2 linked regions of the Homo sapiens genome follow. The protein of the gene in region 1 purifies or fractionates together with the protein of each later gene. This does not show direct contact. Each region holds a gene or a part of one and is shown on either strand. Other genes may lie near its edges. The genes, in order: MINPP1 and C1orf87.

Region 1 (7,305 bases):
GAAACCTCTGCCTCCCGGATTCAAGTGATTTTCCTGCCTCAGCCTCTCCAGTAGCTGGGATTACAGGCGTGTGCTACCATGCCCAGGTAATTTTTTTATTTTTAGTAGAGATGGGGTTTCACCATGTTAGCCAGGCTGATCTTGAACTCCTGACCTTAGGTGATCTGCCCGCCTGGGCCCCCCAAAGTGCTGGTATTACAGGCATCAGCCACCACTCCTGGCCAGTGATGTTTGATCATTAGATTACAATGGTGCCTGCCTGATTTCTTTATTGTAGAGGTACTTTTTTTCCTTGTAAATAAAGAACTTCTTGGCCGGGCGTGGTGGTTCATGCCTGTAATCCCAGCACTTTGGGCGGCCAAGGCGGGTGGATCACCTGAGGTTAGGAGTTCGAGACCAGCCTGGCCAATGTGGTGAAACCCCGTCCATACTAAAAATTAAAAAATTAGCCAAGCGTGGTGGTGCACACCTGTGATCCCAGCTACTCGGGAGGCTGAAGCAGGAGAATCGCTTGAACCCAGGAGGTGGAGGTTGCAGTGAGCCAAGATTGTGCCACTGCATTCCAGCCTGGGCAACAAAGCAAGACTCTGTCTCAGAAAAAAAAGGAAAAAAGGAAAAAAAAGAACTTCTAATTTAAATGACTGTGACTTGAAAATTTAAATACATGTTTATTAAATTAATTGAATAATAGTTTCTTTTTACATGTGAAAAGAAATTAAATTCTTCTTTTAAAAATTAAGGTTGTCTTTTGATTGAGGTATTTTCTATTATTTACTTCAGCAATTTGTTAGAAAATAATTTATCCCTGCTTAGGACTTTCACTGTGAAATAGGTTTATATGCTGAAGTATTTACAGGTGAAATAAAATGATACCTGGGATTTGCTTCAAAATAATACAGTGGTGGTGGTAGGAGCAAAGCTGAAATGGGATTGGTTGAATGTTGATTATTGTTGAAGTTGGATGAGTACACAGAGGTTCGTTATACTACTGTTTTATATTTTTTATGTGTTTAAAGTTCTTTGTTAAGAATTTTTTTTTTTTTTTTTTTTTTTTGAGACAGAGTCTTCCTCTGTCGCCCAGGCTGGAGTGCAGTGGCCCAATCTCAGCTCACTGCAACCTCTGCCTCTTGCGTTCAAGCAGTCCTCCTGCCTCAGCCTCCCCAGTAGCTGGGATTACAGGCATGTGCCATCATGCCCGGCTAATGTTTGTATTTTTAGTAGAGACGGGGTTTCACCATGTTGGCCAGGCTGGTCTCGAACTCCTGAACTCAAGTGATCCGCCCGCCTCACCCTCCCAAAGTGCTGGGTTTACAGGTGTGAGCCACCGCACCTGGCCAAGAATGTTTTTTACAATTAAAAATTAATAGACATTTATGAAATTCTGAGATAATTAGATATCCTGGACTTTGTGTACCTTCAGCAAGCATTTTTTGAGTTTCCGTTCTGTGACAAGCACTTGCTTGGAACTAAAGACACTAACATAAGATAGATATTGTCCTCAAAGAATGCCACAAGGAATGAAAGACATGTAACTAAACCATTGCAAGACAATAGGATGTCTATACAGTGATAGAAGTATACTCAGATGCTCCTTAAGTTATGGTGGGGTTGCATCCAGATAAACCCATGGTAGATTGAATATCTTAAGTTGGAAGTACATTTACGACTTACAATGGATTTATCCAGACATAGCCTCGTTGTAAGTCAAGGAGCGCACTGAAAGTGTATTGCTTTTGAACCATTGTAAAGTTGAAAAATTTTAAGTCAAACCATCATAAGTTGCAGACTGCCCATGAAAGGTGTAGTGGGGCACAAAGGAGAAAGTTAATTTGTAGGATAGCTTTTTTGCAATTTGTGTCTGCTTTAATAAGTATATCTAGATTTTCTCTCTCCTGGGATTAGTTTTGGTATTTAATATACCTATAAAAGTCATTTATGTTATCCATTATTTGCTGAATTAAGCAAATATATCTTTTGATTTTAAAAAGTGTTTTCCTTCTCTGAAATTATTTCTCCGTAATTGTGTATTTTTGCTTTCAATTTTTTCTTTATTACAGTAGTTTATTGTTTACTAATTTATTTTTTCCCTAAGAAACAGTTTAGCTTTATCTGTTTTTGAACTTTATAATGATGGAATTACTCAGCGTGTGTTTTTTTTCTTTTGGTATCTAGCTCTTGTTCAACATTAAGTTTTTAAGATTTATTTGGGAGCTAAATGGTGAGAACACATGGACAGATAGAGGGGAACAACATACACTGGGGCCTTTCAGAGGGCAGAGGATGGGAAGAGAGAGAGGATCAGGAAAAATAACTAATGGGCACTAGGATTAATAACTGGGTAATGAAGTAATCCATACAACAAACTCCCACGACACAAGTTAAAAAAAAAGCTTCCCATTTATAGATTGCTACTTAGAAGGCAGGGATTTGAACTGGGAGGAATTTAAAATGATCTTGACCTGTTGTGTTGTGAAAAGGTTTACAAATTTCAGGAAAATATACCTCTTCTCAAATGGATTGGGAATTATGAGGTCACAGACATTTCTCAGGATTCCGTAAAACATGTACCTGTAGCAGAGTATTAGAGGAGATTGAAGCAAAGGGGCAAGCGGTAACTTCTTGGGGGCGATTAAGTCATTGTATTATCATGGTGGGGGCAGGTTATACAGTTGTTTATATTTGTCGAAAGTCATCAGCCTGTATATTTAAATCATGTGTATGTAAATTACAATTTAATAAAGTTTTAAAAATGAAAAAAGATTTATGAGGTTGCATATAGCTACAATTTTTAATTTTCATTACTGTATAATATTCCATTATATGAATATTTTACAGTTTATTCATTATCTTTTCAGTAGACATTGTTTTTAGTTTGGGGCTATTATGAACCTTGTTGCTATGAACATTATTGTATATGTTTATTGGGGTACAGGTATACCTGTTTCTGAAGGTGTATGTCTGGTAGAATTATCGATTCTCATGCTTCAGCCTCCTGAGTAGCTGGGACCACAGGCATCCGCCACCACACCTGGCTAATTTTTGTATTTTTAGTAGAGACGGGGTTTTGCCATGTTGGCCAGGCTGGTCTTGAACTCTTGACCTCAAGGGAGCCACTTGCCTCAGCCTCCCAAACTGTTGGGATTACAGGTGTGAGCCACTGCACCTGGCCTTTTTTTTTTTTTTTTGAGACAGAGTCTTGCTCTGTCACCCAGGCTGGAGTACAGAGGCGTGATCTCGGCTCACTGCAAGCTCCACCTCCCGGGTTCAAGCCATTCTGCTGCCTCAGCCTCCCGAGCAGCTGGGATTACAGGCACCCGCCACCACACCCGGCTAATTTTTTGTGTTTTTAGTAGAGACGGGGTTTCACCCTGTTAGCCAGGATGGTCTCGATCTCCTGACCTCGCAATCCGCCTGTCTCAGCCTCCCAAAGTGCTGGGATTACAGGCGTGAGCCACCGCACCCGGCCCTTTTTTTTTTTTAAATATAAAGTTTTAGTGGTAAGCATGTGAGAATTTTTTAAATCTCCAGTTGCCTCCTTTTTATTTCTAATAGTAGATTTTATTATTTGAATAGATTGAACAGACTATTATCTAATTCCTTTTTAAATTTCTTAGTGTTTACGTCTCTTTGTTAACTTCTTGATTTCATTGCCTTTGTGTAAGGACAGACTCTCTCAAGCCGTGTTTTTCCTTTACTCTCACACCACCATCACAATCATCAACACAGAAGACTTCTGTGACCAAATGTGTGGGAGCCTTTCCCCTGCACGCCAAGCAGGAGACACCAGCTGGGTGTCCTCCAGTTCAGATTTGACATTGTCTACCTGGAGGTAGTATTAGATCCCACAGGTTGAGGGCTCAGTCCCCAAGTGCCCCATCGGTACTCTTCTGTTCAGCTGGCTTCAAGTTGGCGTTCCCATGACCTCTTCTTTGGGTTCAGTTAATTTGCTGTAGCAGCTCACAGAACTCAAGGAAACACTTTTGCTGGTTTATTATAAAGGATGTTACAAAGGATACAGATGAAGAGATGAGTAGGGCGAGATATGGGGGAAGGGGCGTGGAGCTTCCATGTCCTCCCTGGGCATGCCACCCTCCAGGAAGCTCCACATGTTCAGCTATCTGTAAGCTCTCTAAACCCAGTCCTCTTGGGTTTTTATGGAAGTATTCCTTCCCCCCAGGATATGAGGCAGGACCCTTTCAGGGCAGGATCTTAAGACCCCCAGAAAGGCAGGAAGATTAGAGTTCTGCCTCCGCACAGGTGAAAGGGAGGCAGGAGAGAGATTCTGTTTCCTGAGGCCTGCCCTGGAGGCCTAACACACCCAGCATTATACCAAAAGACTACAACAAGGGATATGGGAGTTACAAACCAGGAAGTGTGGACGAAAGCCAATATATACATATCATAATACCACAGGTCAGCCCCTGGTTTTCGAAGAGGGATACCTTACATCAAAAGAATATATACAATCATTAATAATCCAGTCCATCATCTGTATGAATGTCTTCCAGGGCAAGGCCACTCAGGTTTGCCAGCTTCCTTTCAATCCTGTCAGGTTCCAAAACCAGGAGTGGTCTTGGCAAATTTATGGCTTCACCCTTTCATGCATCTGTCATACTTGAGCTAAGAGACAGCGTCACCTTTTGCTCTGAGCCCCGTTCAAGGCGTTCATGTAATATGTCATTTCCTTCAATTTATAACCCGTTTATTCATCCTTTTTCCCTCAGCTGTTCTCCTTTTCTTCATTAATAAATATCTACACTGCTACCTTTGGAAGGGACACAAGTTGCCATTGTGCTGTGCTAGTCTAGATTGTAGGCAGCAATGCTAGTGTAGCAAGTAGCTCCTCCTCACCCCTTTAATGTATTTTTTGTTTTGTTTTTATATATGGCACTGACCCACCCCTGCTCTTAAAACTTACTATGACATGCACTTAGTTTCTCTAGGAGCTCTTTCGGGAAGAAAGGTTTGTGACTATTGTAGTCATCTTGAACCTCTTTTGGGTTACATATTTTAGTCCCCTAGTTGTGGTTTTAGCTACAGGTTTTAGTTCTAGATAGAGATTTCAGTTCTCCACTTCTACATGAGCAAATGATCAAATGATATGTAAGTGGAAAATTTAACCCTCAGATAAAGGCTACTTAATTACCAGCTCCCGGTTCCAGACCTTTCAGCAGAGGTTAATAACTGTAATCAGTGATAGGTAGGTTTCAAACCGTTTTCTATACTTTTATAATCTGTATCATTCTTAGAAATATAAAAGGTATAGTGTGTGTGTGTGTGTGTGTGTTGGTAATAAATGGTATTATAGGGTATGTATTATTTTTAATGGGTTCTTATTCAACATTGTGTCTTGGAGATTTTTCCATGTCAGTACATGGAAATCTATAATATAGAACTTTTTGATAACTGCAAAGTATTCTGAAGTATGTGTATACCATAGTTTATTTAACCATCTACCTACTATTGGAATTTAGTTGTTTCTGGGGATTTTTTGGCTTCTATAAGCAGTGCTACTATAAGTCATTCTTGTACATTCTCCCTGGTGTTCCTCTGTGAATATCACTTTATAAGAAATGGAATTAAATGGGTCATAGGGTATGTGTGTTTTCATGGATTTTGCCAATTTGCCCTCTAGAATGTCTATACCAATATACATTCCTTCCAACAGTACCCATTTCCCCATATCCTTGGTACACTTTTATTATTATTTTTTCACCAAACAGATACATGAACCAAAGTAACTCATTTTCTATTTGACTTCTACCTTCTCAAAATTCTTATACATTTCTCATCCACCTATGGTATCTTTCTGTGCTTTAATGAATATTCTTCTTCTTTATTCTTTCTTCTAAATGTATCCTTGACATTTAGAAGAAAGAATAAAGAAGAATATTAATATAATATCATCTTAATATAATGTTAGAAGAAAGGAGAGGTGAGCACATGTCCTTACTCCACTCTCTTGAGCTGTCCTGACCTTGGATGATTGGCTGTGAGCACTTACTGGCTTGCTCTTGCACACCAGCATCTACATTCCCCCAATCCAAATTTGTGATGCAGCATAAATCTCTCTGTGGTATGAACCTTAGGGACCAACTCTTAAATGCTGGAAAGGACAAATACTATATTTTGTGCAGAATGGTAATTAAACATTGTAACCATTTCTTAGAGAATCATTATTAAATCAGGGAATCTTGTTATATTTTTGAAAATATATTAGAAATTATTTTTGAATTTTTTTAGGTATTAGAATATTTAAATGATCTGAAACAATATTGGAAAAGAGGATATGGGTATACTATTAACAGTCGATCCAGCTGCACCTTGTTTCAGGATATCTTTCAGCACTTGGACAAAGCAGTTGAACAGAAACAAAGGTAAGAACTTTCTAAAAAATGTGAAGTACATTTTGAGTTACTACTAAACTTCTGGAAATTTTTTTATAATGAGTAATTTTAAAAAATAGTTTTTGCTTGTGTTTTAAAAAAATTTTAATATAATGTGATACAAAAGAATTCGATAACATATATGTAAATTATAAAACATACGAACCTTCCACTCTACCCAAGAACTAGAATATTCATAATAAATTGCATTTGTTTACTTATGTGTTCCTCAACTATTCCATTTTCCTGCCTCCTCTTGCCCTTCCCTTTCCTCCAGAAACTATTCTTTGGAATTTTGTATTGGTCATTCCTTCGCCTCTTTAAAACAGTTTATATTATGAATGTATTGGTGCCCAAAGAATATATTTAGTTTTTCTTGGAATCATACTGCTTATTGTCTTTTGGGACTTGCTTTGTTTCCCCCCTCAACTTTATGTTTTTAATATTCAACATATTATTGCATATAGCTGTAGTTCATTTTCACTGTAGTACAATATTCAATAATGTGAATATACCATCTACTCTTGTCAGTGGGCATTTAGATAGTTCCTATCTTTTGCTGTTATAATTAGTGTAATTATGAACTCTATGTGGCTCCTGCTATGAATGTGCAAAATGTTTTTGTTTTGAAAGAGAAAAAGCTTTTGTTAACATTTATAATCTTCAATTAAAAATAATTTTTCATGACTTGAACCTTTGATAGAACCTCAATTCCAGGCTTGTTTCAAACTTCTGGGCTCAAGGAATCCTCTCCCGTTGGTCTCCCAAAGTGTTGGGATTACAGGCATGAGCCACTGCACCCAGCTGAGCACAGAGAACTTTGTAGGTGGTAGAAGTTTTCCCAAACTGGATTGTGGTGATTACACAGACAGCTGTATACATTTGTTAAGATATCTAACTCTTTAATTAAAACTGATGA
Region 2 (4,182 bases), on another chromosome or scaffold:
CTACCTGTATGGTGTGATACGTGTGTAACTGTGTGCTATGTGAGTGGTGCAAAGTCAGGGGGGATGTTAAGAACAGAAGAACTATGGGAGCTGATGGAAAGTTCCACCTGGTTTTCCTGTCCAGGCAGAGCAAAGGATGTTACCTATTCCCAAAACGCTTTGTCCCAAGGAGTCCTTCCTCAAAACTTCTATCTTGGACTTTTGGAAAATACCCCTGGAGACAGTGTAATGTTGTTTAGTTTTGTACTGCAGAAAATATTGGACTTGTTCAGAAAACCTCACTTGAAATGTTTCTTCTACTGCTTAAGATTAAGATAGTGTATTGGTAATACTTTTATTTTTCTTATGGTATGGAAATCCTTCCTAGAATAATGACCAGGAGAAGGGATGATTTACCTATCCAAAAATGATGTTCATAGGTCTACTAGGTTCCAGGCACTGTGGGGAAGTGGCAACATTTAATGTTTTTTTTACTATGTGGAATTGTGGGGTTTGAAACAACATAGTTTGATTAGCAATGTAGGAAAAAATCAAACATGTAATATTAATAATAAGTTTTATTAAAACAGAAGGAGATTCTAAGTAGCTGGGTTCTTGCCACATCAAAAGATAAAACTAGGTTTCCTCTGATCACTTTGAACTGCTTATGAGTGAGCATCATAGCCAGAAACTAAGTCCAAATCAAAAGCATCTACAATAGCTGCATCGGCCTCCACTCTGACAATGCCTCCGCCACTACACTTAGGCTGGGGAGAAACATGTGTCTGGGTAAAAAGGGAGATAAGGGAAACATCTGTTCTCACAATATGGGCTTGTTATCATAGCTCCTTTAAGTACCGCAGTGCTGGCTCCAAGAGCATATTTTCTCCCGAACGGAATCTGCGCAAGGCCTGGTCGATTTTCTGAGGGCTCAGGGACAGGTTGTAAATGAGATTGTAGTTGTGAATGAGGCGTCTGGCTCGTTCCTTCTCCAGAACTCCTGTGATTGGATTGGGTAGGAGGAAGGTTTTTTAAAGAGGATGGAGGGAAAACAGAGAAAACTATATATTAGCTTGAATGACTTCCAGGTAAAGACTAAATGCTAATACTTTGCAATTTTAAGCTTCTTAAAAATCAAGTGGCATATTAAAAAATATTTATAGCTGTGGGTATGCATCACAGATTTCAGGAAGAATCTGAGGGTGATTTCAGGGGAAAGAGAACAAGATGGGATCCAATAAGATCCATAGATAAATTCTAAAGCAATTTAGGCTTTTCTTTGTAACTTTAAAACTTGTAAGGCCAATTTTTGAAACACTGGGGGTGCCTAGCAAAAGTAACTTCTAATTGTCCTGAGTTCTTTTTATCTTGTTAAAGTCTCCAAACACATTCCTAAACATGCAGGGATTAAACAGCTTATTTTCAAAATGCATTTCTCTAAATGTATTTATAGATGTTCTTTGGTATCTGCAGGGATTAGGTCCATAATATTCCCCTCCCCAACAGTGATACCTACACCCATGGATGCTCAAGCCCCGATATAAAATGGAGTAGTATTTGCATGTAACCTATACACATTCTCCCATGTACTTTAAACCATCTCTAGATTACTTGTAACACCTAATACAATGCAATTGCAATGCAAATAGTTGTTATACTGTGTTTTAAAATTTGTACTTTTTTTTGTTGTCGTGTCATTATATTTTATTTCTATTTTTTAAAATATTTTTGATATGCAGTTGGTTGAATCTGTAGTTGCGGAATACAAAGATGCAGAGGACTGACTGTCCTGTGACTCCCTCCAGCTTGCTGTGCAATCACAGGTGAAGCATCTAACTTCTCATAGCTCAGAGTTTGAATCTGCGTAATAGAGGTGGTAATGTGTATGACTGCAGGATATGCTCTGGTACCCACACATTATATATGCCAATACCAATGTCAGTATGCTTTCCATGTTAAGATTGGATAGATTTTGATGGCTGTTGGGAGGAGTCGCAGTGTAGACCACGGCATCACTGAAGATCAATAACTCACTCATAAGCCCCTAATTGCAAATATCTATGTGTCAGATACTGTGCTTGGGAATACAGAAGATTTAGAGAATTTTTCTGCTACCTCTGGAAGTTCTCTGTCCCGTGGGGGAGAGAAGTTATTCAGAAAATTAACTGGGATACAACAATAATAATTAAACAATATTTAAATATAAAATTTACTATGTTCCAGGAACTGCTCCAAGCATTTCACCAATATTAACTAATTGAATCCTTACAATAACCCATTTCACAGAGGGCAAAACTAAAGCCTAGAGACTGCAAGTCTCTTGATTGCCTAAGGTTAACCACTACAGTACGTTATGGAATGAGGGAAAAGAGATTGCTTCAAGTAGGGGTCTATTTATTTATTTATTTATTTATTTATTTATTTATTTATTTTTTATTTTGAGACAGGGTCTTACTCTGTTGCCTAGGCTGGAGTACAGAGGCACGATCATGGCTCACTGTAGCCTTGATCTCCTGGGCTCAAGGGATCCTCCCACCTAAGCCACATGAGTAGCTGGGATTGCAGGTATGTGCCACCACTCTCAGCTAATATTTTTATTTTTTGTAGTGATGAAGTTTCACTATGTGCCCAGACTGGTCTGGAACTCCTGAGCTCAAGCAACCCTCCCCCTAATGCCTTTCAAAGTGCTGGGATTATAGGCATGTGCCACTGTGCCTGGCCTCTTTTACTCTCCTTCATATGTGCGAACTGTAAGAGTGATGGTGAAATTCCTTCCTAAAGAATCCAGAGGCAGTGCCTTGTCATTTTGCGGAAAGCCACTACTAGTCCATTAGAGTTGGGCAATGGTAGATACTTATCATCTCAGTTTAAGATACCAAATATTACTCATTTTTAAATGTGCAAGTACTATTGTGCATGGTGCCACCTTCTCAACTACTCTCTAATCGCTATTTTTAACAGTAGGCCACAATAGGTGGGGTCCTAATTTATTCTGTTCTATTCCAGTGTGTTCATTTTCTATTCTGTTCTGGTTTGTTCATTGCCTATTTATTGTCTGTCTCTCTTATTAGAACAGTGGTCCTTTCATTTATGTAAACCTCATTCTTTGAGTTGGCCAATTGCATCTTCGAAGTTTTCTGGATAGGATGGCTGCTCTCAGTCCTGTCTAGCTTTGCTTCCTCTGGCCATTTCTCCACACCCTGCCTCTGGAAATATAAGACATGGATTTGGAATAAGTTTATGACTGTAAGAAAAAAAATGAGTGAGGTGTGGTGGCATGCACCAGCTAAGGTGGGAGGATCATTTGAGCCTGGGAGGTCGAGGCTGCAGTGAGTTGTGATCATGCCATTGCATTCTAGCCCAGGCAACGGAGTGAGGCCCCTGTCTTAAATAAATAAATAAATACATAAATACATAAATACATAAATAAATGTCAAAAGAGGAAAGAAAGAGGGAAAGAAGGAAAAGAAAACAGAGGTAATTAAATTGTGTGAAAATCAATAAAATATTAAGTTCACACAGTATCCAGTACTAGTAATCACTCAATAATGTGAAATTTTACTATAGGATAATTATAATAATTATGTCATCAACATTATTTTAAAAATATATAAACAGTATATATGTAATTGCTTATTAAAATAGATAGCATTTAGTTTATATTTTAATTAAAAATTAAAAGTTATGTTAAAAAATACATCTAGGAATCACAGTAGTATTTTCTATCTTCTAAGCTTTACCATTGATAGAAGATGCCTAGAGTCAAACAAAAAGTCCACTGAATGAAATTTGTATCTGTCTAATTTACTCTGTCATTAGGGGATGCCCAGAACAGCTGCATAAAATAGCCCTTACAATCCATCTTAGTGTTGGAAAGCCTGTCTTTTCTAACCAGAACCAAAATAAAAAAATAATAAGAATCCTTTTTTTTTTTTTTTTTTTGAGATGGAGTTTTGCTCTTGTTGCCCAGGCTGGAGTGCAGTGGCATGATCCCGGTTCACTGCAACCTCCACTTCCTGGGTTCAAGTGATTTTCCTGCCTCAGCCTCCCAAGTAGCTGGGACTACAGGTGCCTGCCACCACAGCCGGCTCATTTTTGTATTTTTAGTAGAAACGGGGTTTCACCATGTTGGCCAGGCTGGTCTCGAACTCCTGACCTCAGGTGATCCACCTGCCTTGGCCTCCCAAAGTGCTGGGATTACAG

The links.
Region 2: the proteins of MINPP1 (region 1) and C1orf87 purify together in Homo sapiens (affinity purification with mass spectrometry; 2 studies listed by BioGRID and IntAct, with this or other methods). This does not show direct contact.

Annotation. Positions count from the first base shown.
Region 1 is NC_000010.11:87,514,793-87,522,097, forward strand, and holds part of MINPP1 (multiple inositol polyphosphate phosphatase 1 isoform 1 precursor), read left to right. Parts: exon of another isoform or gene 1-86; intron 87-6,243; coding exon 6,244-6,377; intron 6,378-7,305. UniProt on the Homo sapiens protein: Multiple inositol polyphosphate phosphatase that hydrolyzes 1D-myo-inositol 1,3,4,5,6-pentakisphosphate (InsP5[2OH]) and 1D-myo-inositol hexakisphosphate (InsP6) to a range of less phosphorylated inositol phosphates.
Region 2 is NC_000001.11:59,989,855-59,994,036, forward strand, and holds the end of C1orf87 (uncharacterized protein C1orf87), read right to left. Parts: intron 980-4,182; coding exon 819-979; 3' UTR 540-818; downstream 1-539.